Homo sapiens: one gene and its partner. The protein of the gene in region 1 interacts with the protein of each later gene in a pairwise test. Each region holds a gene or a part of one and is shown on either strand. Other genes may lie near its edges.

Region 1 (3,500 bases):
TAAATAAATAAATCAGGAAAATAACCCAGATGCATCTCTGCATACAAAAAAAGCTTAGAAAATATAAATGAAAAAAAGAAAATATAAATGAATTATAGTAATCCCAAAACACAATCCAGAAGTAGCTATTTTCTTTCTATTTCCTCAGTAATAAAATTCAAAATGAAATCTCACTAAAATTTAAATAATCCTCTCCTCTCAGTCTTCTAAAATGGTTTTTCTGACTTACCAATGTCAATTTGCTCCACAGCCTCCTCAACAGTTACACCTGGAGAAGCCACTGTCTTTACAAAGGGATAGAGATTGCAGGCAACAACTCTATAAAACAAAGACGAATCTGGCTGTCATTAAAAAGTCCACTCATGTGGTTTACAGCTATCTAGGAAAAAAACAAGTCAGTACTATTAACGTAAACAAAAGCCATAGAGAACTAATATATAAACTGTGAGCCTGACATTTTAGAATTCTAACGAGTGTGTTAAAAAGTCAGGGTGTCCTGCTGGGGTCGAGCAGAGGTAATTTAGTCAGCAGGTGCTCCCCGGATCTGAATACACAGTACTCCCTCCACGTCACACTGCAACGCTGCTGCTTGCATAACCTTAGCTACCCAGAACCACCAAGCCATGAAAAATTTATAGAACATTTTAATAGAAGTATAAAGTACAAGATTACAGATAACATTCTCATTTTGGAATGTGATCACTATTATCCAGAACATTAGAATTTAGATTCTTTTTCCAGTGGATTGGCACAATGATGAAAAATATCAGAGCATTCTAAGGGTGAAACATTTGTTTTGCCTTCAGAGAGGTCATAAAAATGATGGTAACAGGAATGCCAAAAGAATAATTTAAAATACAGAAGTAATCTAAAATTAACAATCAGTGAAGTACAGTTCCACTCCTAGGCCTGTAGTGCGAGGAGCTCTACGGGCAGGCTCCAAACAAGCCTAACTGCTGAAAACTAATTAAAAAAAACAAAAACAAAAACAGAAGAACAGAATTGGAGGGGAAACATTTTGCAGCTCATCTTTATTAAGTCTACTGCCCTCCTACTAAAACCAGACAAATGTCACAAGAAAACTAGAGACCAGTATCTCTTAGGTATCTTCACACAAAAACTCTCAACAAAACACTAACAAACTGAATCCAGAAAAATGCAAAAACCACCTGATCATCTCAATAGATGTACAAAAAGGATCTGACACAATTCAACAGGTATTCATATAGAAACACTCAGCAAATTAAAAATAGAAGGGAACTTACTGAACATGACAAAGTGTAAGAAAAACCCACAGCTAACATCATACTTGATGGTGAAAGACTAAAATACTTGTCTACTCAACTCAGAAACAAGACAAGAGGCCAGGCGCAGTGGCTCATGCCTATAATCCCAGCACTTTGGGAGGCTGAGCCAGGCAGATCACCTGAGGTCAGAAGTTCGAGACCAGCGTGGCCAATATGGTAAAACCCCATCTCTACTAAAAATACAAAAATTAGCCGGGCAAGGTGGCGCACGCCTGCAATCCCAGCACTTTGGGAGGCTCAGGAGGATGGATCAACTGAGGTTGGAAGTTCAAGACCAGCCTGACCAACATGGAGAAACCCCATCTCTACTAAAAATACAAAATTAGCCAGGCAAGGTGGCACATGCCTGTAACCCCAGGCTGAAGCAAGATAATCACTTAAACCCGGGAGGCGGAGGTCACAGTGAGCCAAGATCACGCAACTGCACTCCGCCTTGGGCAACAAGAGCAAAACGCCATCTTAAAAAAAAGAAACAAAACAATAATGTCCATTCTTACCACTTCTACTGAACACTGTACTAGAAGTTCTAGCCAGAGCAATTAGCAAAGAAAAGAAAATAAAAGGCATCAGGACTGGAAAGAAAGCAGTGAAGTTATATCTATTTGCAGATGATACCACCTAGTATACAGAAAATCCCAAATTCACAAAAATAACCTTTTAGCACTAATAAATGAGTTCAGCAAAGCCGCAGGATATATGATCAATATATAAAAATCAATTGTATTAAAATATACATTAGCAGTGAATGAGAAAAAAATTAAGAAAACAATTCTACTTCACAAGACAATGTTAAAGAAATTAAAGACACCCCATGTTCACAGACTGGAAGATTTAATATTCTTAGGATGGTAACATTTCCCAAATTGATCTACAGATTCAACACAATACCTATGAAAATTCCAACTGCGTTGTTTTGCAGAAATGGACAAGCTGATTCTAAAAATCATGTGGAAATGCAAGGGACTCTGAAGAGTCAAAGTCATCTTGAATAAAAAAAACGAAGTTGGGGCCGGGCGCAGTGGCTCACGCCTGTAATCCTAGCACTTTGGGAGGCCGAGGCGGGCGGATCACGAGGTCAGGAGATCGAGACCATCCTGGCGAACACGGTGAAACCCTGTCTCTACTAAAAATACAAAAAAATTAGCTGCGCATGGTAGCGGGCGCCTATAGTCCCAGCTACTCGGGAGGCTGAGGCAGGAGAAGGGCGTGAACCCGGGAGGCAGAGCTTGCAGTGAGCCAAGATCGCGCCACTGCACTCCAGCCTGGGCAACAGAGCCAGACTCCGTCTCAAAAACAAAACAAAACAAAACAAACAAACAAACAAAAAACAGAAAAATGAAGTTGGAGGACTCACACTTGCTGATTTCAAAATTTGTTACCAGCCTATAGTAATAGTGTAGTACTGGCATAACAGCAGGCACATGGACCAAGGGTGCCAAGACCATTCGATTGGGCAAAGAACAGTCTTTTCAACAAATGATGCTGAGACAACTAGACAGCCACATACAAAATAAAATAAGACTTCTATTTCATGTCTGTATATGAAAATTAACTTAAAATGAACCAAAGACTTAAGTATAAGAGCTAACACTAAAATAACTCTTAAAAGAAATGTACACACGCCGGGTGCGGTGGCTCACACTTGTAATCCCAGCACTTTGGGAGACCGAGGCAGGTGGATCACCTGAGGTCAGGAGTTCAAGACCAGCCTGGCCAACATGGAGAAACCCCGTCTCTACTAAAAACACAAAAAAATTAGCTGGGCGTGGTGGCGGGCACCTGTAATCACAGCTACTTGCGAGGCTGAGGCATGAGAATCGCTTGAACCCAGGAGGCGAAGGTTGCAGTGAGCCGAGATCACGCCACTGCACTCCAGCCTGGGCAACAAGAGCGAAACTCCATCTCAAAAAAAAAAAAAAAAAGAAAGAAAATATACACAAAAATCTTCATCACTGAGGATTAGGCAATGGTTTCTTAGACATGACACCATTAACACAAGCAACAAAAGAAAAAATAAATTCAACATCATCAAAATTAAAAACTTTTGTGGGCCGGGCATGGTGGCTCAAGCCTGTAATCCCAGCACTTTGGGAGGCCAAGGCGGGCAGATAACCCGAGGTCAGGAATTCAAGACCAACCTGGCCAACATAGTGAAACCCTATCTCTATTAAAAATCCAAAAAAATTAGCCAAG
Region 2 (3,500 bases), on another chromosome or scaffold:
TTGCTCTTCCTGCTCATATCCACTAAGATGTTGGTTTTTCCCAGCAGGTCAATATTCACTCCTTCTTTCATTTCAGCCTGGACTTTAACCACGTGGAAAGCAAGATTAGAGGCCCCCTGAATAGTACTGTTCACGAAGACTAAAAGGAACTGAGTGTGCCTGAGCTTAAGCATCACGAAGACCAGTAATAAAGAACTATTTACAAACTTGGTTTGTATTTTTTAAAATTGCACGTGCATACATGTTACCTGTATGATAAGAGAAAGCTGAGCTACCGCAGGTGTGTAGGGAATATTCTCTGGCAGTACAAGGGAAAGGGAAGGGCTTTACTTCGAGGCATCAAAGCACACAGTCCATGTTTTAGATTCTTAAATGTAAAGAGACTATACCTTAGAAAAGTGTCTTTTCAGATTACTAGAGGCAGTGTGCACCATGAGTGTGGAAACAAAAGCCGGATTCAGATCCCAGCCACGCCACTTGCTAACGTGACCTCAGGTAAGTCACAGCTTCCCACAGCCTCAGTCTCTTAATATGCAATAAATCAAGCTGCTTAGGGCCGTGGTGAGGATTTGAGGGCGTGTGGCCCATCTTCCTTTGCAGGATTATTCACTCATGTCTTATTTCTGTTCCCCTGTGATGGAAACCACACGTCTTGCTTCACGGAAGGTTCCTCCCTGGCACACAGTCCTGGCTAGGGAGGATCCTCCCTGATCCCTGCAATGGAACAGGGGTCTCTCCATAGCCGATGAGCCTCCTCTCATCCCCCACCCCTCCTGCCGTCGGCCTCACTGCTCCCCTCCCCCTTCCACACACGGCTCTCCACAGCACACATGACAGTGCATCACCCCGCAATGCCCAGGCTTCAATAGCCCTGCAGTATTCAGTGACATACTTGGTGACTCCTTCTCCCAGCCTTTAACTCCTTAAACTCCCCAAACTATAATACCCTCTTCATGTGACACGCCATCCACATCACACCCCATTAACGGGATATGCTGTCCACACCACACCCTGTTCATGAGACACGCTGCTCACCTTGCACCCTGTTCATACAACAACACACCATCCGCCTCGCTCCCTGTTCATGCCACCCACATCACACCCTGTTCATGCCACCCACACCACACCTGTTCATACAACACACCATCCACACCACACCCTGTTCATACAACACACCATCCGCCTCGCTCCCTGTTCATGCCATCCACACCACACCCTGTTCATGGGACACACCGTCCACACCACACCCTGTTCGTGGGACACACCGTCCACACCACACCCTGTTCGTGGGACACACCGTCCACACCACACCCTGTTCGTGGGACACACCGTCCACACCACACCCTGTTCCTGGGACACACCGTCCACACCACACCCTGTTCCTGGGACACACCGTCCACACCACACCCTGTTCCTGGGACACACCGTCCACACCACACCCTGTTCCTGGGACACACCGTCCACACCACACCCTGTTCGTGGGACACACCGTCCACACCACACCCTGTTCGTGGGACACACCGTCCTCACACCCTGTTCCTGGGACACACCGTCCTCACACCCTGTTCCTGGGACACACCGTCCTCCTCACACCCTGTTCCTGGGACACACCATCCACACCACACCCTGTTCATGGGACACACCGTCCACACCACACCCTGTTCATGGGACACACCGTCCACACCACACCCTGTTCATGGGACACACCGTCCACGCCACACCCTGTTCATGGGACACACCGTCCACACCACACCCTGTTCGTGGGACACACCGTCCTCCTCACACCCTGTTCGTGGGACACACTGTCCACACCACACCCTGTTCGTGGGACACACTGTCCTCACACCCTGTTCATGGGACACACTGTCCTCCTCACACCCTGTTCCTGGGACATGCTGTACCCATCACACCCTGTTCCTGGGACACACCGTCGTCCCACACCTGGTTCATGGTACTCGCGGTTGTCTGAACACCCTGTTCCATCTGAGCACCTCAGGGCTCCGTTGCCTCCTGGATTCCACGTGTCCTCCTGGCTCATTCCTCTCTCTCTCTATCCCACTCTGTCTCTAGTTCCCCACCTGTTCTCTAACTTGACTGTTGACTGCTGCTGTAGAGAAAACTAGTAGACCTTGGCACTGCTTTCTATTATACACGGTATTGTACACTGTACACTTTACATTGTACACTGTATTGCATATACACTGTATATACAATACGAGAGACCAAAGGCACCTGAGGTGTCTTTAAGAAATCATACACATTCCTGCTTGTTCCCATCTGGATTTCAGTCAGTGTTAAAGGTGTAACATCCTGCAAATAATCCTGCTCATTTTCTATGCCCAGTGACTGTCTTCTGAGAAGGGTGGTTTAGTGAGGCATTTGTAACTTGTAAAACATCCACAGTACAGCCTGACTGGTTCAGCCTTTCACCCTTAAATGGAAGACGAATTACTGATACTGTACCTTTATTCGTCTTAGAGAATTTAGGATGAAACTTTAACAAAAACAAAATCATAATCCTTCAGCGACATTAACAGGCAATCAAAAAAAAACTATATGAACTCTCTTTAGGGTAGGAGTCTTTTTTCCCTTAGGCACTTTTCCGAACCTTGAAGGACTCAGTGAAAACCCCATCTTAAATAAACAGATTAACTGCACTAAATAATAACTCTAAATTGCTAAATCCAAAAGAGAGTTTTATTAAAAATGGTATAATCATAATAGAACCCTATTTATATATGAAAGTTAAATCAATGACAGGAAAATATGTTAACACTACAAAAGTATAAAATAATATTCTCATAAAAGTAACTTTTTAAAAGTTAAAACTTTGACTCTATTTTTATGTACTTACAGAGTATTTAAAGACCTGTAAGTGTGAAATATTGCATTCTGCCTTAAAAATAAAAATATGTTTACACATCAGAACTCTACACCAAGAATACTAACTAACAAAAGGAATTTATTCTGCTGCTGGGAATGTTATATTTAATTCATAATGCACTTTAAGTATACAGCAAGCCATTTAGTCCTTACAATATTAGTATTGTCCCAAATTAACAAGTGAGGAAACTGAGCAAATTAGGTCACTTGCCCTATGTCACACGCATGAGATGGCAAAGCCCGGGTTTTACTCCAGGCATCTGGTTCCAGAGGCCATGTGTTTCAGAGGGACACATCCCAAAAAAAATGACCTATAATAGCACTAATCTTCCATAGATAAGGAATGCTTAATCTATAAAGATATATATATATATATATATATATATATATATATATACACTATATATGTAAAACAATCTTTTAAAAAAAGTACATGGTAAAAGACTATATGATACCTACACAGACATATACACAAATGAGAACAGTTGGAAGTATTCCAAATTCAGAGGGAACAACGAAAGGAGCTAAAAAAGATAAGTAAATAATAAAAGGAAAAAATGGAATGAAAACTAACTGGCAAAAAATCTTAAAAGTAAAAATTGCAATTTAAACCACAT

The links.
Region 2: the proteins of ATIC (region 1) and MTNR1A interact in a two-hybrid assay, tested with the Homo sapiens proteins (one large-scale study listed by BioGRID and IntAct).

The regions. Positions count from the first base shown.
Region 1 is NC_000002.12:215,322,059-215,325,558, reverse strand, and holds part of ATIC (bifunctional purine biosynthesis protein ATIC), read right to left. Parts: intron 319-3,500; coding exon 230-318; intron 1-229. UniProt on the Homo sapiens protein: Bifunctional enzyme that catalyzes the last two steps of purine biosynthesis.
Region 2 is NC_000004.12:186,545,568-186,549,067, forward strand, and holds part of MTNR1A (melatonin receptor type 1A), read right to left. Parts: intron 207-3,500; exon of another isoform or gene 77-206; intron 1-76.